Homo sapiens: one gene and its partners. The protein of the gene in region 1 purifies or fractionates together with the protein of each later gene. This does not show direct contact. Each region holds a gene or a part of one and is shown on either strand. Other genes may lie near its edges.

Evidence for each region.
Region 2: the proteins of SNX21 (region 1) and HEATR6 purify together in Homo sapiens (co-immunoprecipitation; 3 studies listed by BioGRID and IntAct, with this or other methods). This does not show direct contact.
Region 3: the proteins of SNX21 (region 1) and AMD1 purify together in Homo sapiens (affinity purification with mass spectrometry; 2 studies listed by BioGRID and IntAct, with this or other methods). This does not show direct contact.

What each region holds. Positions count from the first base shown.
Region 1 is NC_000020.11:45,836,798-45,843,802, reverse strand, and holds the end of SNX21 (sorting nexin-21), read right to left. Parts: exon of another isoform or gene 6,468-7,005; intron 5,536-6,467; coding exon of another isoform or gene 5,412-5,535; exon of another isoform or gene 5,271-5,411; intron 4,324-5,270; exon of another isoform or gene 3,498-4,323; coding exon of another isoform or gene 3,345-3,497; intron 3,165-3,344; coding exon 2,490-3,164; 3' UTR 1,966-2,489; coding exon of another isoform or gene 1,847-1,965; 3' UTR 1,771-1,846; coding exon of another isoform or gene 1,760-1,770; 3' UTR 527-1,759; downstream 1-526. Other genes in the region: ACOT8 (acyl-coenzyme A thioesterase 8), read left to right, coding at 82-276, 1,847-1,965. UniProt on the Homo sapiens protein: Binds to membranes enriched in phosphatidylinositol 3-phosphate (PtdIns(P3)) and phosphatidylinositol 4,5-bisphosphate. May be involved in several stages of intracellular trafficking.
Region 2 is NC_000017.11:60,054,904-60,061,930, reverse strand, and holds part of HEATR6 (HEAT repeat-containing protein 6), read left to right. Parts: intron 1-1,834; coding exon 1,835-2,041; intron 2,042-2,409; coding exon 2,410-2,509; intron 2,510-4,527; coding exon 4,528-4,883; intron 4,884-5,693; coding exon 5,694-5,816; intron 5,817-6,329; coding exon 6,330-6,416; intron 6,417-7,027. UniProt on the Homo sapiens protein: Amplification-dependent oncogene.
Region 3 is NC_000006.12:110,877,776-110,884,802, forward strand, and holds part of AMD1 (S-adenosylmethionine decarboxylase proenzyme), read left to right. Parts: intron 1-7,027.

The DNA.
Region 1 (7,005 bases):
GGAGTCCCTTTTCCCCCTACCTCCGTGCAGGTCCTGAGCTGGAAAGCCCAGGAGCCCAGGGCTGATGGGGACCTGTTGCAGGCGAGGGCGACATGAAGATGCACTGCTGCGTGGCCGCCTATATCTCCGACTATGCCTTCTTGGGCACTGCACTGCTGCCTCACCAGTGGCAGCACAAGGTGCACTTCATGGTCTCACTGGACCATTCCATGTGGTTCCACGCCCCCTTCCGAGCTGACCACTGGATGCTCTATGAATGCGAGAGCCCCTGGGCCGGTGAGTGTGGGGCCGTGTGGGACAAGGGCACTGACCTTGAGTGGCAGGAGCCTGCTTTCTTGGGTGATGCTGATTTCCCGACTTCCTGTGTGGCGCTGCACAGGTCACTTCCTTTCCTTCCCTCCCAGGCTTTGGCATCTTCATCTTCAAAATGAGAGGGTGAGGCCGGGACACCTGCTCTGCTCTAAATTTCTAGAATGTGCTGGAAATGTGATTCACCTTCTCCCAGGGACCCAGTTCTAGTCCCAAAACCAGTTCAGATTCTTTGTATTACAATAGGCAAATCATATCTTCCATCTGAACCTCAGTTTCCTCATCTAAACAAAGAGGGTTACATTACAGCAGTGGTATCCAAACCCGCAGTCCATCAGACTGCCATTTGGGGATGCCTTTTCAAAATAGATTCTGATTCCACCCTCAAGATTCTCACTCAGTAGGTCTTGGATAAGGTCCAGGAAACTGTATTTTTAAGTTCTCTAAGTGATTCTGATTAACCTGATTGGGATCGGGGCATTCAGTGGTCCCTAAGGGCCTGCTTGGACCTTCCTTGCAGGGGAGAGAAACAAGACTCGTTCATCAATGTCTAGCTTCAGAACCCTGACCTCCTTTCCAAGGGAGTACATTTCAAATGAAGAAAAGCTTTGCTTGATAAACCAAGGACAAAACTCAAGGATTCTTTATACTCAGATAAGGGGTATTCTCAAGTACCAATAGCATCACAATCCAAGATTGATAACCTTGAAGTGAGGACATGGGTTCAGATTTGGCTTCATCATGGGGCCAAATTCCTGACCCTCTCTGGATTTCAGTCCTGGTCTGGAAAACTGGACAACACATAACTGCTTCATTTGGCTACTGTGAGAACTGAGTGAGCTCTGCTATGTGTAAGGGAAACCAGCAATCATCCTCATAAACATCAAACTTGGGCCCAAAGCCAGCAAGGGAGAAAGAGTCTCCAGATGGGGAGGGAAGAGGCCAGACCTCATGGCCTCAAGTCCTCTCTTCTGAGTCCTTTCTTCCCCTTGGTGGTGGTAGTGGGGATATTTTTCATGAATTACCACTTGGAGGACCTGGCTTGATTTATTATACAGGGAGCCGATAGTTTTCCTAACACAAGTGGTCAGAGGTACAGCAGTTCTGCTTGGCCGAGCTGTTGAAGGAGACTGTTCTCAGAGCTCCTCCCTCTGTGATCTTTTTGAGGAAGCGAGGAGAGGTGTGAAAGTGCTTTTAAACTGTCAACTGGGGTTCCTGTGGGAGGAGTTACCCCTCAATGACGGTCCATAATAAGCTCATGAAGGGGCATTTGGAGCAGCCACGACACTCAGTGCACCCTTGTGTGGGGCAGCCCTGCCCTGGGCCAGACCCTTTGCAAGAAGTCCACTTGGAGGTTGGGCATGGTGATGTGCGCCTGTAATCCCAGCTGCTCAGGAGGCTGAGGCGGGAGGATCCCTTGAACCCAGGCGCTTGAGACCAGCCTGGCAACTTAGTGAGACTCTGTTTCAGGAAAAAAAAAAAAAGTGTATTTGGCTGTTCTGAAGCAGGCCATCATCACCCTTCACCTCACCCACAGGTGGCTCTCGGGGGCTGGTCCATGGGCGGCTGTGGCGTCAGGATGGAGTCCTAGCTGTGACCTGTGCCCAGGAGGGCGTGATCCGAGTGAAGCCCCAGGTCTCAGAGAGCAAGCTGTAGCCAGAGGTACCAGCTTCGCCTGGGGCTTCAAGAACCTCCCATCTATCCCCATTCCTGAGACAGGAGTTACAGTCCCTTTTGGCCCTCACATCCAATAAAGAGACTGATACCACTGGAGTGGCTGGCTTTTAATTCCCCTGGGCCAGACCTGCAGCCTTGCCTTCATCCCTTAACTCCAGGACTCCAGGGGCAGAGTCCCTGGCCTTCAGCCAAGAGGCCTTGCCAGCTTGGGGGCCCACCAACAAGGGAACATTGCCCCAACCTGTGCCACAGCCCCCCGGCTGTTTATAGGCTGGAGAGGCTGTGTCAGACTTCCCTGTACTACACAAGGGCAACCCCAGCCAAAGCTCACCCTGAGCCTAGCTCAACAGAAGTTTCCTTGATCTGCTTCACATTCTCTTTTGGAACTTCTAGGGGCTCCCAGCACCCTCTGCAGCCTCCCAGCTATTCTGTTCTCATCAGGTCCTTCCCCTGCCTTCTGGGGCAACCCCTCTCCTCACAGTGGCCTTAAATCTAGGCAAGGGTTAGTCCAGCACCTCCTTGATGAGCAATTCTTTGAGACTGGGGGGTGGTGTGGGGGTAAGGCCTGCCTCCTGCAGGGCTTGGAGCCGAGCCTCTGATTGACGTTTGTCCAGGCCCAGGCGCCAGGAGAGCCGGACATGGGCCTCCAGAAAGGGTGCCAGCAAAGGGTGGAGGCTCTTGTCCCCAAGCAGCTGCAGGGCCTTCTCACAGCATGCCCGGGCCTCTCCAGGGTCTTCCAGCTCCTGGTGGCACACGGCCAGCCCAGCCAGGGTCAGCAGGGGGCGGTCTGGGCCAGAGGGGGTGCCCAGCTGGGCTTGCAGCTGCCAGGCATTGGCCCAGAGTGCCAGAGCCTCACGATAGAGGCCAGTACAGGTGAGGCTCTGTGCCCGCCGCAGCTCCGGCAGCACGAAGAAGTCCTGCAGGTCCGGGGCATGGCGCAGCTCAGGCACTGCCTGCAGGTGACCCAAAAACTGCTCAAAGGCCCGGCTACGGCGGGCAATGGTCTCTGCAGTAAAATTCCGGCGCAGCCGCTTACGGGGGAAGGAGATGGCAGCCATTGGGCCCCGGAATTGCCGCTGCAGGTTTCGGTGCAGCCGCTCAAAGTCCGAGTAACGGCGAGAGATCTGGGCTGGCTGGCAATCTGGCGGTCCTGGGCCGATCACGGCGAGGGTGTAGAGCTGCAGGGAGGGTGGGTGTCAGGGCAAATGCAAGTTGTCCACGGGCCCGTTCCCTCCCCATCCTTCCCCATCCCCCACACTCCCAGCTGTACCTCCCCACCTCTTCCTTTCACCCCTGGGACAGCACCCAGGAGGGCGGGAGCTGCTGCGCAGTGGCGGGGAAGCCCAGTCCCATCTTACCTGAGGTTTGTCTGAAATGACCCAGGCCCAAGGCAGCAAGAAGAGAGAAAGACAGAGATGAGCTTCAGTGCCCGGGGCTGCTGCCCCTTTTTTTGTACTCCCTTCCCATAGAGCATTAGTTCTTCTGACAGCCCCCTCTGGAAAACCAGACATAAGCTGAAACCCCAGCCAATCTCTTGGGGCTCCTTTAGGACCAGCTTGGAGCTTGTTCCACTTTGGACACCTGGCCTCCACATCCCTGGTCAGGCTTTTCCAAACTAGACCCAGAGGACAGGTCTGTAGATAGCCACAACTGCCATAACTGTGAAAAGTATACTGGCCTAGGACTCAAGTTCTAACCCCAGGTCAGCTACTCCTTCTCTGTGTGACCCAGGCAAGGGAGTCCCCCTCTGGGTCCACTTCTGTTTCTAGTGAAGGAAGTGCTCGGTCAAGTCAGTGTTTGTCCAAAAATGAGACATGTACAAGTATTGGTACCTGAGGTTTTTAGGTGGTGTGCACTAGAGTAAATATCACTGTATCAGGAGGTTGGTCCCCTTTTAATTATTATTTTTTGAGACAGGGTCTCACTGTTGGCCAGGTTGGAGTACACTGGTACAATCATAGCTTACTGCAGCTTCAACCTCCTGGGCTGAAGCATTCCTCCTGCCTCAGCCTCCCAAGTAGCTAGGACTATAGGCATGCACCACCACACTCAGCTATTTAAAAAAATTTTTTTTTTTTTTTTTGTATGGAGATGAGGGGGGGTCTCACTATGTTGCTAGGGCTGGCCTTGAACTCCTGGCCTTGAACAATCTTCCTAGCTAGGCTTCCCAAAGTGCTAAGATTACAGGCATGAGCACCACACCCAGCCTAATTGTTTTTTAATCTTTCTGACTACAAATTGAGAAGCTCTCAGTTTGGTTTTGTTGGGGTTTTTTTATTTTTTTATTTTTTTTGAGACGGAGTCTCGCTCTGTTGCCCAGGCTGGAGTGCTGGAGTACAGTGGCACGATCTCGGCTCACTGCAAGCTCCGCCTCCTGGGTTCACTCCATTCTCCTGCCTCAGCCTCCCGAGTAGCTGGGACTACAGGCGCCTGCCACTACGCCCGGCTAATTTTTTGTATTTTTTAGTAGAGACGGGGTTTCACTGTGTTAGCCAGGATGGTCTCGATCTCCTGACCTTGTGATCCGCCCGCCTTTGCCTCCCAGAGTGCTGGGATTATAGGTGTGAGCCACCGCGCCTGGCCAGCTCTCAGTTTGGTTTTAAAAAAAGGACTTCTTGGGCAGGTTGCAGTGGCTCACACACACACCTGTAATCTCAGCACTTTGGGAGGCTGAGGCAGGTGGATCACCTGAGGTTGAGAGTTCGAGACCAGGCTGACCAACATGGAGAAACCCTGTCTCTACTAAAAATGCAAAATTAGCCAGGCGTGGTGGCACATGCCTGTAATCCCAGCTACTTGGGAGGCTGAGGCAGGAGAATTGCTTGAACCTGGGAGGTGGAGGTTGTGGTGAGCCGAGATTGCTCATGGCACTCGAGCCTGGGCACCAAGAGTGAAACTCTCTCTCAAAAAAAAAAAAAAAAAGTACTTCTCTAACACTTCTCATCTCCATTTTTAGAAAAGAGTCAGAAAGTGGATCTCAGGTCAGGGCCTCCTTCAGGCAACAACATCTAGGCAAGATTTAATGACGTTTCATTTTCACTACTTACTTATTTACTTTATTTATTTATTTAGTCTCGCCCTGTCGCCCAGGCTGGCATGCAGTGGCACAATCTCCGCTCACTGCAACCTCTGCCTCCTGGGTTCAAGCAATTCTCCTGCCTCAATCTCCCGAGTAGCTGGGATTACAGGCGCCTACCACCACATCCGGCTAATTTTTGTATTTTTAGTAGTGTCGGGGTTTCACCGTGTTGGCCAGGCTGGTCTTGAACTCCTGACCTCAGGTGATCTGCCCACCTCAGCCTCCCAAAGTGCGGGGATTACAGGTGTGAGCCACCGTGCCTCACCTTTTATTTTTATGGCTAGCTTCTCTCGGTGGCAAGTGAGACTTTCCACGTACGGTAGTGCTATGAAGTTGTCTTTTAAAATTACTTAAAGGATGGGCACAGTGGCTCATACCTGTAATCCCAGTACTTTGGGAGGCTGAGGCAGGAGAACAGCTTAAGGCCAGGAGTTCGAGACCAGCCTGGGCAACATGGCAAGACCCTGTCTCTAAAAAAAAGAAAAAGAAAAAGAAAAAGAATTAGTTGGGCACTTGTGGTCCCAGCTACTCAGGAGGCTGAGGCAGAGAATCATGTGAGCCCACGAGTTCAAGGCTGCAGTGAGCTATGATCACGCCACTGCACTCCAGCCTAGGCGACAGAGCAAGACTCCGTCTCGATAAACTTATTTAAGAAAAAAAATAGGTTCGGCTGGGCGTAGTGGCTCACACCTGTAATCCCAACACTTTGGGAGGCTGAGGCGGCAGATCACTTGAGGTCAGGAGTTCAAGACCAGCCTGGCCAACAGTGAAACCCCATCTCTACTGAAAATGCAAAAGTTAGCCAGGCATGGTGGTGGGCACCTGTAATCCTAGCTACTCAGGAGGCTGAGGCGGGAGGATTGCTTGAACCTAGGAGGTGGAGGTTGCAGTGAGCTGAGATTGCACCACTGCACTCCAGCCTGGGCAACAGAGCAAGACTCTGTCTCAAAAAAGAAAAAAAAAAAGATAAAGAAAAAAAAATAGGTTCATTTAAAGAAAAATGTTAAGAAGAAAAGGACACAAGTGGCATTTTTAGATAGGACAAGAATCAGGGAGGTATTGGAATGACTGAGGTTTGGAAAACACTGAACAAGATGATCACGAAGTTCCCCGCCTCCCAGGTCTGAGAACCTGAATATGGATTAACCTATAATGCCAAGCCAACAGGTTTAAAAGGAGAGTTAACCAGTGTTAGATGTTAAAGGCACCCTAACACCAAATCCAGATCTTTCTCTCACATTTGTTCTGTGGAACTGACAATACTCTAGCCACTCCTGGTCAGTTAGGTTTGCTTACTCTGTCCTCTTGAAGATTCACAGTGTATATCACTATTAGGGATTAAATACTTTAACAATAAAGAAACTTATTGTATTCTCATTTAACTCTGCATTCTCAAAACATATTGCCTGCAAAACCTTTATTTAGAAACAGCTATTAACATTCCAGGGAACTAGTTTTCTGCAGGACACACTTTAGGACACCAGTTTTCTTCAGGACACACTGGTCTATATAATAAGCCTTTATGTTCATCTAGTTTACATTTTGTATCCATTATCTCATTGACCTTGTAACATGCAGCCAGATGGGTGATAATGACAGTAGTTCCATTACCCAAGCATTTACCCTGTGCCTCCTGTTGTACCAAGCACTCTTTACATCTGTGATTTCATTTAATCATCACAACAGCACTGCAAGGAAGGTCCTTATCTCTGACAGCTGAGGAAGCAGGCTCAAAGAGGGGGAAAAGGGCTCAAAGACTTGCCGTAAGTCACACAGCTGGAAAACAGCCCAGCTGGGATTTAAACTCAGGTTGATCTGATTCCAAAGCCTGTGCTCTTCACCCCCACAAGTTGAGTGGGGAATTAGGGTCCCCATTGTACACAGGAGGTGCCTTGCTTCTCCAGACACAGGCCGGGGCATACTTGGCCATCCTGCTCTAT
Region 2 (7,027 bases), on another chromosome or scaffold:
TTTCCATTCGATTTTTAATTTCATTCAGTTTGTGAGCTGTTGGAATTGTGATTTTTAATTGTCTTCTAAAGAAATGAAGGTTTAGCATAAGATCTATCTTGTTGAGTTCGGACGAGCCTCTAGTAGGGATTGGCCAGCTGTGGCCCGTAGGGCAAATCTGGCCCACCACCTGTTTTTGTACAGCCTGTTAGCTAAGAATGGTTTTTACACTTTTAAATGGTTTTAAAATAAAACAATAATATCTCGTGATATGTGAAAATTATATGGAATTCAGATTGCATTGTCCGTAAATCAAGTCTTTTTGGAACGCAACCACGTTTATTCCTTTACATGTCTATGCTACAATCACAGAGTTGGGTGGTTGTGACAGAAACTGGCCCACAAAGTCTAAAATATAAAATGTTTACTGCTGGCTCTTTACAGAAAAGTTTGCCAGCCCCTGATCTAAGTCCTTTTTGGATCAGCTGACTTGTGTTCATGCTCTCGCTCTCTCGTTTTTTCACACATATACACACGGTTTCCTAATACATTGTCAATTTCCCACCTTAGGGGATTATGCTTAATTCTGAAGTCTGATGCTACTGTACTTCAAATTTCTCTTCAGAGCAATAAGTCTAGATTTCTACGACTCCACTCTATAAAAGGCCTGCCTGGTGATTTATTACCTGGTTGTTTGGAGATAATATAATTGAAGGCTTTTGGGAAAACCTTTTTTGCTCCAAACTCAGATATGCTTCATATTGAGTAACTATTTAGGTTAGATTCTAGAATTGTAATGTTGGTTCCCTGCTTTTAAATTTTTTGACTGAAAATGTTAATTATCATTTTTGGATGAGCTGGCCTAAGAGAGTACAATATTATTCCGTATTAATAGTCCTATGCTTATTACCTATATCCCATTTTTGTAAAGTTGGGCTTTCTTTTCCTTTCTAATACTACAAAATCATCTGAGTACCAATTGAAAGTAATCTTTCAACCTTATAAAGAAAATCTTGGTGCCAGTGACACCTTTCCTAACAAATACAGCAGTCCATGACAAAGATGTTCTTTTTGTCCTTTCCATTCATAAGATTGTACTTAATGGTATTCCTTTTTTGAATTGTCAAATACTGTCACTGCAGGCAGTGTTATTTCCTGTACCTAAGACTGTTTCTGAAAGTTGGATCACTAATGATGTCTGCCAAGCAGTATGTACACAAAGTTCCTAAAGTCCTATTTAAGTTAACATTGAACACACATACTTCAGAGTGGAATATGAGGCATAATGTTCTCAGGAACTTTAATAGGAAACAGACTCTAGGCACATGTGTTTTTTCTACCCCATGGGCTGTTTAGTTCTAACTTTTCAGTTGGCATTCTGCTTGAATAAACCAGGCCTCTAATTCTTATTCTCATGCTTAGGATTTCAGATTTTTGTGCTATGGTGTAGCTTAGATTTATTTCTTACTGTAAAACACCTAACAGCAATGGGTTTCTAGATTTTTTTTTAGCCAGGTGTGGTGGCACACATGTAGTCCTAGCTACTTGGGAGGCTGACGTGGGAGGATTGCTTGAGCCCAGGAGTTTGAGGCTGCAGTGAGTTATGATTGCGCCACTGCACTGCAGCCTAGGTGACAGAGCGAGACTGTGTCTCTAAAATAAAAATAAAATAAAGATTTTTTTTTAGGTGTGGGACGCAAGTGGCCTAGTTTTTAGGAACTAACAGATAATCCCATTGCCTTTATTCTTCCAATTAAAATGATTGTAAATACTTTGAACATTAAATATGTATAGGAAGAAGGGAATCTGACTCCTAATTTTCAACTAATCAATGTGAATCATCCCGAAATTTCAGACACGTGCCTGTGCTCTGCAAGTTTTATCTGCCATCTTGGAAGGCTCAAAGCAGTTTCTTTCTGTTGCTGAAGATACCAGTGACCACAGAAGGGCTTTTACCCCCTTCTCCGTAATGATCGCTTGCAGCATTAGAGAGTTGCACAGATGTCTTTTGTTAGCTTTGGTGGCGGAGTCATCCTCACAGACCGTTACTCAGATAATTAAGGTAATGTACCAACTGTGGGTTCCAGAGCAGGCTTCTCTGTTTTAATTTTGTATACTGTTTTACATAGCTCAAAAGTAACTTGACTTAAGAATATAACTAAGTAATAGTTTTATTAAAAATACACTATTTGGAAGTCTGTACCTACTCGTCTGATCTTATCTATAATCTCTGTATGTCCCAATAAATGATTTGCTAAAAATACTTCTTTATCTTTAGTTGTACCAATGAGAATACAAGTGTTATTAAAAAAAAGGGGGGCTAATTTTTAGTTGTGTGAAAACTTTTCTTTTTTAATTAAATGCTGCAAAATTTGTTCTATGCTGTGGTTTAATCAAGCCTTTTGATGAGCTACTTTTTGTGTTTTACAGTGCCTTGCAAATTTAGTATCAAATGCACCTTATGATCGTCTAAAACTCAGCCTGCTGACCAAAGTCTGGAACCAGATAAAGCCTTATATTCGCCACAAAGGTTTGTAGTGGCTTAAAACTGATGGCTTCTTTGTATCAGTCAGATGCAGACTATTAGTAAAAATATACAGATATAGATATATGTATATATTCAAAGCATTTTTACAACTCTTAAGAGATCTCTGCTTATTCTTCTCAACTTTTCAGGGGTATAAGCTGTTGCAAGAATTGACCCCTCAAGTCCCAGTGGAAGTGAGCTAGAGGATTAATTGTAAAGTTTGCCTGTTTAATGCTCAGGGCAGTGACCAGAGTATCCCTTTAGAATTAAGATTGAGCCAGGTGCAAGCAGCCCCCCTGAGGAGTATGATTGTTTATATCCCTTACACATAGGTAGAGGATGGATGGATGGTTAGATAGACAGACAGACGGACAGATAGATATTATCTACTTTTTGGAAAGAAAAACTGGAATACAAAATTTAACTTCTTTATTGTTATTTCCTATGAAGTTCAGATAAAACCCCAGAACTTCAAATCTTTACTAAGTGCAGTCTTATTATTTCCTCCTACACATAATGTATTTGTGCTATAAACACTTGCCTTTTGTAGATTTGCCTTTCTTTTGTTTGCAAGCTTTCAGATCGGACCACATTCTGATGAGTTCAGTTTTTCAGGCAGAATTGTAACAAGGAAGGAATAGTGGATGTTTTCTGTGACATAGTGGGAAGAGCATGGGACCTGAAGTCAATCCAAGGGTCTGGATCCCACTCCCATTTTTGCCATCTCATGGCCATGACCCTCTCTGAACCCTAATTTCTTCCTAACAGCAAGAATTATAACTACATCATAAGATTTTTATGAGGCTCAAATGAGATAATGAGATGTAACTAAGTCCAGTTCACTACTTACACTAATATGTAAAAAAGGGACCCAGAAAGATAAGTCTTACCCTAAGGTTTCCCATCACATTCATGGCAGAAATAAGATGAGAACAACCCCTGCTCATTCCACTGTACCAACTTTTCATTATCTGCATCTTCAGCTGAGGAGAGTGCACCATGCCTCAAAGTTTCCTTTCAAGTATCTGACTTTATCCTCAAGTAACTTTTTTTCATTAAAATGTTCAAACCCTGAAATTCTTAGGTATGAGCCTAACAAAATATGTACAAGATCTATATGAAGAAAACTGTGAAACTCTGATCAAATAAAGAACTAAATGAATGGACAGAGATTCCATATTCCTGGATAGGAAGGCTCAATATTGTGAAGATGTTACTTCTTCCCAACTTGATCTATAGATTCAGTGCAGTCTCAATCAAAATTCCAGCAAGTTATTTTGCAGATATCAATGAACTGATTCTGAAATATATATGGATATGCAAAAGACCTGGAATAGCCAACACAATATTGATAGAGAAGAACAAAACTGAAGGACTGACATTCCCTGACCTCAAAATCTACTATAAAACTACAGTAATTAAGACAGTGTGATACTGGCCAAGGAAGAGACAAACAGATCAATGGAACAGAATAGAGAGCCCAGAAATAGACCCACATAAATATAGTCAACTGATCTACAACAAAGGAGCAGATACTTTTCAACAATTGGTGCTGGAACAGCTGGACATCACATGCAAAAAAAAAAATGAGTCTAGACACAGACCTTTTAGCTTTTTAAAAATATTTCTTGTTAAAATCCGGGGTTCATTCAAGGTACATGCATTGCATTTAGTTATTATGTCACTGTAGTCTTTTTAAATGTAGAGTCCCCCCACCCATCTTTTTTATATCAAACTGACTTAGGAAAGAATCCAACCCAATTGTCTTATAGAATGTGAACTCTAAGCTCTGTCACCAAAGATAACAAAATAAATCACATTCTCAATTTGTCAGATTGTTTCTTTATGGTGTTAACTTACTCTCCTGTCCCATGTATTTCCAAACTGGAAATGAGGTCTAGAAGTTTGATTAGATTCAGGTTACACAAGGAACTACTAATTTTTAATTGCCTGCTGGGATAACTACCATCTTTACAGTAGTTGTTGCCATGATGATAAGTTCTTACTGCTTCCTTTGACAGATGTTAATGTTCGTGTGTCAAGTCTCACACTCTTGGGAGCTATAGTGTCCACCCACGCACCTTTACCTGAAGTCCAACTACTTCTGCAACAGCCATGTTCTTCTGGACTCGGTAATAGCAATTCAGCAACCCCTCACCTCAGCCCTCCTGATTGGTGGAAGAAAGCCCCTGCAGGACCCTCTCTGGAAGAAACGTCAGTTAGCTCACCTAAGGGGTCTTCAGAGCCCTGCTGGCTCATTCGACTCTGCATTTCCATTGTCGTACTGCCCAAGGAGGATTCCTGTTCAGGTAGCGATGCTGGCTCTGCAGCAGGAAGCACCTACGAACCATCCCCCATGCGACTGGAGGCCTTACAGGTAGGAGATTTCATTTCCTCATCTCTGAAATGGAAGTAACCATTCCTCCTTCAGAGTGACTGTGAGGAGCGAGCAGGTAAAACCAAGCCATATGTCAATTGTGTTCGTGGGAATTGTATTTTAGGTATGGGTGGTGTATTGTTTTGTTGTTGTTTTGTTTTGGGGAGGTGTTCTTTGGTTGTAAAATAGCAGATTCATTCCTTTTTGTTCTTTGATTGCAAATTATTTTAGTCCCTTCAGGTATTATATGACAAGTGGATGTAATAGATTGTAGAATAATTCTGAGTGAAATTGTACAGTTAATTTTTGATTTTTGCAACTTAAATGTTTAATTCTCTATAAGCTTTTCCTTGGTCTTGTACCTGCTTAGAGTAACAAAATAATTGTTCCTTCAAAGGAAGAAAACAATCCTAGATAAAAGAGTTTACTTTTTCTATACAAATATGATCTGAGACTAGGCCTGGTCCTGAGGTCTGCTGCTGATTAACTGGGCAGCATGAAGCATGTCCTTTCATCTTGTCAGGCTTAGGTTCTTTAGTTGTAAAATTCAGTTAATACCTACTTTAAAGAATAGTTCCAAGACTTAAATGAGATTCTGTTAATGAAAAGCAATCATATACTAAAGCACCATAAAACTATGATACAGTTTATTGATGTTAGTCACAAAATAAAGATTATGGTTCTTAATTTCATTCAACAGATTTCAGCCCCTGTTAAATGTAAGCGATTTCTGAAATATTGTAACACTTTTCTGGATATTGCAGCCTTGCACTCAGGTCTTAGAGGGTTAATTCCATGCTCTCTTTGCAGGTATTGACTCTTCTGGCAAGGGGCTACTTTTCAATGACTCAAGCCTACTTGATGGAGCTTGGAGAGGTGATTTGCAAGTGCATGGGGGAAGCAGATCCATCCATTCAGCTTCATGGAGCAAAGGTAATTTTCATCAAAACCACAATGCTTTTTCCTTCTCTTCACTTTATATCCTTCCTTTTCTTCACTTTATATCCTTCCTTTTCTTCACTTTATATTCTTCTGCCACATGTCCTTCAATTCTGAGATTTCTTAAAGAGATTTCAGGTAAGGAGGACATGCATTCTTCTGTTTTCGGCTCTTACATATAAACCCCACGCATTGACTCAGTAACAAATTAATAAGATATAGCTGTTGATTTCAGTCCTTGAAAGAATGCCTCTGTTAACAGTGACTGAAAAAAGAAAGAAAATTAGTTGCAAATTATGTTTCCCCTTGATTTGAGGCGATCTCCAAACTCAAGTGAAGGTGTTACTAAAGTGAAGGTGTTACTAGAGTGAAGGTGTCACTCGAGTGAAGGTGTTACTCGAGTGGAGGTGTTACTAGAGTGAAGGTGTTACTAGAGTGAAGGTGTTACTCAAGTGAAGTCATTCATTAGTTCTGATGCTCCACTTCGGTAATTCTTTTTCTTGGCAGCTTCTGGAAGAACTGGGCACAGGCTTAATACAGCAGTATAAACCAGACTCCACTGCAGCACCTGATCAGAGAGCACCAGTCTTCTTGGTAAATAAATGTCAATTCATAGTTTTCTTTTATTAATGCTTCAGTTGCAGTTTTATTTTGAAGCTCAGTGATAAATGGAGTAGATGATATGGTTTCTTCCAGTGTCAAAAATTATGTTTTATAATCCAGGAAAACATGAAACTAGTATAAATTGGTTTTATTTTACATTTCAGTTTATTTGCAGTTTAGTTTGTGGTAGGCTTATGTATAACATATAACCAGCAATAGTAAAACTAATATTTCTTTTGCATAAAACCTAGTTTTTTATGCAAAAGAGGTTTATCTGGCTCACAGTTCTGCAGGCTGTACAAAAAGCATGGTGCCAGCATCTACCTCTGAGGAAGCCCCAGGAAGCTTTAAATCCTGGTGGAAGGCAAAGGGGGAGCAGGCATGTCATATGGCAAGAGAGTAAGCAAGAGGGAGATGCCAGGCTCTTTTAAACAACCAGCTCTCGTATGAGCTCATAGAGTGAGAGTTCACTCATTACCACAAGGACAGCACCAAGCCATTCAAGAGGGATCCACCCCCATGACCCAAACACTTCCTATTAGGCCCACCTCCAGTGTTAGAGGTCACATTTCAGCATGAGGTTTGAGGAGGCACACATCCAA
Region 3 (7,027 bases), on another chromosome or scaffold:
ATGGCTCACTGCAGCCTTGACCTCCTGGGCTCTATTAAGATGTGAATAAACTAAAAGTAGGTTAAAAGATGAACAGATGGAATTAAACAAATCTGTTTATAAAGCATAATAAACATAGGGACATAAAAACGATTAAGAGAATGAAAGGCTTAAATGTCCAAAGAGAGCATTAGTATTGATGCTAAAGACAAGGATAACAAGATAAGGATATGAGGGAGAAAAAAATCCTGGAAAAATAGCTTTCCAAAACTAATGCAAGAAGAAATGGAGAACCCAAAACAGTCCTAGAACACCTAAATAACTTGAATCAGTCAATCATCTAGGCCCAGATGATTTCACTGGAGTGTTCTGTATAATTCAAGGGAGAAAATATCCAACTTTTTTCACGCATTCTTCTGGGAAACAACATACTTCCCTCGGTTTTCTCATCCCAAAGTCTGAAATATTTTTTTCTCCTACACGATATTTACCTTTCATATTTAGATCTGCAATCCATCTGGAATTGATTTTGTGTGTGGTGTGAGGGAATACACTTTAAACAAACTTGGCTCATCAGTCCAAGCTTTAATGCTTGGAATCTTTTCTGAATGTACACCTTTTTACTAAACACTGCTTCCCTCTTGTAGACCATTTAAGATATTTTATCTTAAGTGAACAAATTATGTAATACTGAGAAATTTAACAAAGAAAAATCTTTTATGATATAGCTTGGGTTAAACAATACTGTTGGAGAAAAGCAGCAGTCCAGGTATATCCAGATGAATAAAGGACAATTAAGGGAGAGGCGGTTTCTTAGGGGTAACCTGCAGTTTTCTCTGATTTTTCAGATTTTACGGATGTTGAATAAAAATCAGTGACCATTTAAAAAATGGTTTAGTTGTTGGATCAAAGTGCTGTAACAAACAAAAGCTTTTTATAAGACATGGCAGCTTTAGGGAGGGTGAGAGTAGTAAGAAGGAAATCTGTTAGAAAATAGAAAATTTTGCTGAGAAAAGAATGATTTTTCAGGACTGGAAATCCTATTACTGTGCTTTACTCAGATTTTATAAACTAAAACATAATTTTTAGTAAAGGATTGGGGCAGTTGTAAAGATAGTCATACCTCAGCTTAACTTTCCCCAAACTCATGACTTATTTGACTACATCATTATGCAGCATTATTGCAATATCAATAATTTACATTGAAGGAATTTACAACCCGTTGCCAAAAAACCTTTTAGTGTAATGTTTCAGAGTAGAAATGCTTCCTGCTAAAGAATAAAGCTTCTCGTTACATTCCTCCCAGCAGTTTCAAAAAGGTTTCATGGCTGGGCTTGGTGGCTCATGTCTAATCCCAGCACTCTGAGAGACCAAGGAGTTTGAGAGCCCAGTCTGGGCAACATAGTGAAATCCTGACTCTACAAAAAAAATTGAAAAATTATCTGTGCGTGCTGGTCCATCCTGGTGCGTGTCTGCATCCCAGCCACTCGGGAAGCTGAGGTGGGAGGATTTTTTTGAGCCATTGGGGGATCGAGGCTGCAGCGAAATGAGATTGCACCAGTGCGCTCCATCTGGTGGCAGAGTGAAACCCTCTCAACAACAACGAAAATATTTCAACTGTTGTTTACAAACCATGTATCTTTAAGAAGCACATGTTGAAAGTAGCAGAAAACTGAGAGGAGTATCCCGATTTGGGGTAAAAATTTGAGATAGAGAAACAATAATGTGATGATAATAGGTTCATATCTTTGAACAAAAGGGAGGAGGCTTATTTCTCAGGTTATCTGAATTCACTGCCGCAGGAAGGCACCCTCAGAATCTAACTTCTGGTCAGTCTAGCTTTACTCAAGAATGATCTGGTTTTAGGATGCCTTTTACCTAAAGACTGCTTACTACCTGGGGTAGAGGCACCCTGATGAATGTACTGTAATGAGAGCCTCTAAAACAGACCTAAAAATATGAGGTAAGAGCAGAATTGAGAAGCTGCAGTGACTTTGGATAAATTACCTGAACTCTGAAACCAGCTGGTTTTACATTAGGAAGTAATGAGTAATCTAATGACCTGGAAGCTTTTCAAATAAAAATTTGCAGGCATCATCCTCAGAAAGTGTCTGACCTAACTGGGTATGGGAATAGCATCTATGTATTGAGTTTTCAGGTGATTAGAGCATAACCCTGCACTAATGGGATCCTTCTGTATTTAAGTTCTTGGTCTTTTTTTTTTTTGGACAGTCTCAGTCACCCAGGTTCGAGTGCAGTGGTGCCATCTCAGCTCACTGCAACCTCCGCCTCCCAGGTTCAAATGATTCTCCTGCCTCAGCCTCCCTAATAGTGGGTACTACAGGTATGCACCACGATGCCTGGCTAATTTTTGTATTTTTAGTAAAAGACAGGGTTTCGCCATGTTGGCTAGGCTGGTCTTGAACTCCTGACTTCAAGTGATTGAGCCATCGCCCCTGGTCCCTTTGTCCATTTTTTAATCACTTTTTGTTGAGTTGTGTGTAGGTGTGTCTTTTGCTTTGGATATTGACCCCTTATGAGGTGACTTGCAAGTATTTTATTCTGTAGGTTGTCTTTTCACTCGTTTCTTTTGATGTATAGAAATGTTTACATTTTAGGTTTTCAAGTTCCATTTGTCTGTTTTTGATTTTATTGTATGTCATATCCAAGAAATCATTGCCAAATGTAATGCCCTGAAGCATTTACCCTATGTATTCTTCTAGGAGTTTTATTCGCTGTTAATGTTTAGGTTGTTGATCCATTTTGAGTTAATTTTTGTTTATGATGTAAGGTAAAAGTCCAACTTAATTTTGTTTGCATGTGGACATCCATTTTTTCCCAGCACTATTTGTGGAAGCGATGTTTTTCCCTGTTATGTAGGCTTGGGACTCTTGTTCAAGATAGTTGAGCTCAGTCATTTACTTCTTTTTTTGAGACACGCTTGTCTTGCTCTGTCTCCCAGGCTGAAGTGCAGTGGTGTGATTTTTGGTGCACTGTAGCCTCCGCCTCCTGGGTTCAAGTGATTCTCCTGCCTCAGCCTCACGAGTAGCTGGGACTACAAGCCTGCGCCACCACACCTGGCTAATTTTGGTATTTTTACTAGAGGCGGGTTTCGCTATGTTGGTCAGGCTGGTCTTGAACTCCTGACCTCAAGTGATCCGCCTGCCTCGGGCTCCCAAAATGCATTTAATCAGGCGACATAGAGAAGTCTTGTTATAATATAATTATCTTGTCCCTGTAGACATTTCTAAATTCTATTTTTATTAGACCTCAGCCTCTAAGAAAATGTTTTAAATATAAAATGTGGCATGCCACTAAAGTGTTGTTTTTCAGACATACAATTTGTGTGCTGTTATTAATATAGAACATCTATTTTTCTTTGGGATCATTTATCATGATCTCTGATTATATTTAATATTTTAGTATCTAGTCTTTAAGTGAAATTAGGGTATCTCAACCTCAGCATTCTTGACATTTTGATTCAGATAATTCACTGTTGTCAATGACTATCCTGTTAATTATACCGTGTGTAGCAGTGTCCCTGGCCTCTATCCACTGCATGCTGGCAACACCACCACCACCCCAGTTGTGATAAAAAATGTCTCCAAATGTTGCCACATGTCTTCTGGGTGGCAAAATTACTACAAGTTGAGAACCACTGAGTTAGATCAGAGAGGTGGCATTTAAGATGAGAAAAAGGAATTCAAATCAGGAAATACTCAATCTACATATTTCTTTGTGTTTTATAACCACCTAAGAATTGTGTGCTTCGGGCCAGGCATGGTGGTGCATGCCTGTAATCCCAAATCCCAGCACTTTGGGAGGCCGAGGCGGGTGGATTGCTTGAGGTCAGGAGTTCGAGACCAGCCTGGCCAGCATGGTGAAACACCTTCTCTACTAAAAATACAAAAAAAAAATTAGCCTGACATGGTGGCAGATGCCTGTAATCAGTCCCAACTACTCGGGAGGCTGGGGCAGGAGACTTGCTTGAACCTGGGAGGCGGAGTTTGCAGTGAGCTGATAGCATACCACTGCACTCCAGCCTAGGTGACAGAACAAGACTGCATCTCAAAAAAAAAAAAAATTGTGTGCTTGAATAGCTTTATAATAATTTCTAATGACTAGATCAGTATTACGTGAGCTGTAATGTGAACAAATCCCAAAATCATCTTGCTATCTTGCTTCTCTTGATTCTGCTTTATATCCATCAATTTGATTTATTGACTCTTTAAATAGCAAGGATTGCCAAATAGATCAGTTTTATAAATAGTTTATAATAGACTAGTGCTTCAAAGTCTCAGTTTGTAGTGTACTTGGGAGTGAAGCAGAGACAAGACCACTATCACTACTGAGCCTGATAAAACATTCTAGCTTAATACTATCTTTTCTATTTTTGACACACAGTCTCACTCTGTCGCCCAGGCTGGTGTGCAGTGGCACGATCTTGGCTCACTGCAACCTAATTTTAAAAATGGCTCTGTCGACTGTATAAAGCACTTTGTCTTTTCCATCATTAATTTGATCAGAAAGCAGACCACTGAAAACCTTTCCTCCAAAACAAGAGTCAGCAAACTTTCTGTAAAGGACTAGGGAGTAAATTTTAAATTTTGCAAGGCAGACAGTCTGTTGCAATTACTCAGCTCTGCCCTTATAGGGAGAAAATAACCATAGTCAATGTATAAATGAATGGGTGTGGCTAGGTTCCAGTAGAGCTTTATTTACAAAAGCAGGCCATTTTTTCCCACAGAAATGTGATAGAAATAATTTGTGCTGAAATTTTCAGCTGTTGCAGAGTTTTTCACCTCTTTTATGTACATGTATAGCATTGTATTGACTACTTTTTTCTTTCGTCTATTTTGCCCTCTGATTTATTTTTCTTGAGCTTAGTAGCTCTGGTAAATGCCTTTATCATCACTAGGTTGATAGACAGTTTAACTGTTTGTCCTAGGTTGCTTAAAGTAATTGCTTTCTTTTGATACTATGATTGAAAAATTCTGATTACCGGAGCATTACTATTAGTTGAGGAAAGGTTTGAATGGAGAATTTTATTAACTGATGATGAGTGAGTATAAGAGCATTTTGAAGCCAATGGGTTGGCACGTGCCTATAATCCTAGCACTTTGGGAAGCTGAGATGGGAGGATCTCATTAGCCCAGGAGTTTGAGACCAACCTGGGCAACATAGGGAGACCTCATCTCTACAAAACAATTAAAAATATATTAGTAAGGTGTAGTGATACATGCCCTGTGGTCCCAGCTACTTGGGAGGCTGAGGTGGGAGGATCTCTTTGAGCATGGGAGGCCAAGGCTGCAGTGAGCTGTGATTGTGCCATTGTTCTCCAGCCTGGGTGACAGTGAGACTGGCTCAGAAAACAAAAGGTTATTTCTCTGCCATTACAGAAGAAGCATGCTACACTGTCTTCTCTTATTAAAATGCAATTAATAAACCCTGGACAGAATGCATTGTTGAGCAGCTATCCAAGGACTCTGAGAAGTAAATTTTAGCAGGTGAAATGGAGAAGAAAGCCAGAACTTTAAATTCCACTGAACCAGCAGTGAATTTCCTGTTTTTTTTCCCCTGTGGTATCTCCTCGCTGATTTCTCCTGGGCTTGCCAGAAACCCAGAACTGAAAAGTAGGGGCAGGCAAAAATAGTTCCAAGAAAGGCTCTCTAGTTCTCCTCTGCAAAGAAAGAATGAGAGGCCCCTTTGAATCAGAGTGGAAGAAATCTCTTTTTTGCTTTTGTTTTGTTCTATTCTGCCCCAATCCTCTTGTAGGCCTTTAGCAGCTGTGGCAGTTAGGCAGATGTCTAAAACAACGAGAGAAGGGAATCATTTTTTGTTTGTTGTTTGTTTTTGAGACAGAGTCTTGCTCTGTAGCCAGGGCTGGAGTGCAGTGACACGATCTCGGCTCACTGCAAGCTCCGCCTTCCGGGTTCATGCCATTCTCCCGCCGCAGCCACCCAAGTAGCTGGGACTACAGGTGCCCGCCACCATGCCCAGCTAATTTTTTTTTTTTTTATTTTTAGTAGAGACGGGGTTTCACCTTGTTAGCCAGGATGGTCTTGATCTCCTGACCTTGTGATCCTCCTGCCTCCCAGAGTGCTGGGATTACAGGCGTGAGCCACTGCGCCCGGCCAAAGCCCTATTTTTATAGGTAGTGGATGAAGAAGAGTCCTTCCCCTATCCCCTATGTGAGTCAGGCATTGTCAGAGAGATTATGGAAGGTTGAAGAAAGTAAACCTATAAAGTTTTATATGAACACTCCTTAGCCATTTTGCATGGATCTGACCCTAAACAGCACATCAGAGGCTTTGAAAACTAGAATACACAATAGACTGCCTCTCCAGGGCCAGCCTGGCCATTGGGTGGCAAATAAGTGGGGCAGATGCAAATAACATAGCAAAGGAGTTCATAACAAACCTGACACTGGAACCATAACACAACCTAGAAACATTGAGTAAAAACTTGAAGCCTAAACCAAACCAGATTGTCTGCTGAAAGTTTTTAAAAATCAAGACCTAGAATGATGTAACATGTCAAAATATCCAGGATGCCATCCTAAATTAGTCAACATACTCAAAACCAGGAAAATCTTAACATCTCAAAGGAAAAGACAGCAGACACCAACCTCAAGGTGACATGGACCAAGACTTTAAAGTATCTGTGCTACAAGTTGTAAGGGTGAATACTTTGTTTTAAGAGAGGGTCTTGCTCTGTTACCCTGGCTGGAGTGTAGCGGTGTGATCATGGTTCACTGCACCCTCCATCTCCTGGGCTCAAGCAAACTTCCCACATCAGCCTACCGAGTAGCTGGGACTACAGACCTGCACCACCACTCCCAGCTGCCTTTTTTCTTTTTAAGAGACTGGCTATTGCTATGTTGCCCAGGCTGGTCTTGAACTTCTGGTCTCGTGATCCTTCCTTCTTGGCCTCTGAACCACAGTGCCTGGCCACAACAGCCTTTAAAAAAAGAGAAAACAAAAATAAGAAAGGAAAAGACTGTTACACTGTTTAGTTCAGCCATGGAACGTGTTTAAAAGTCTTAATA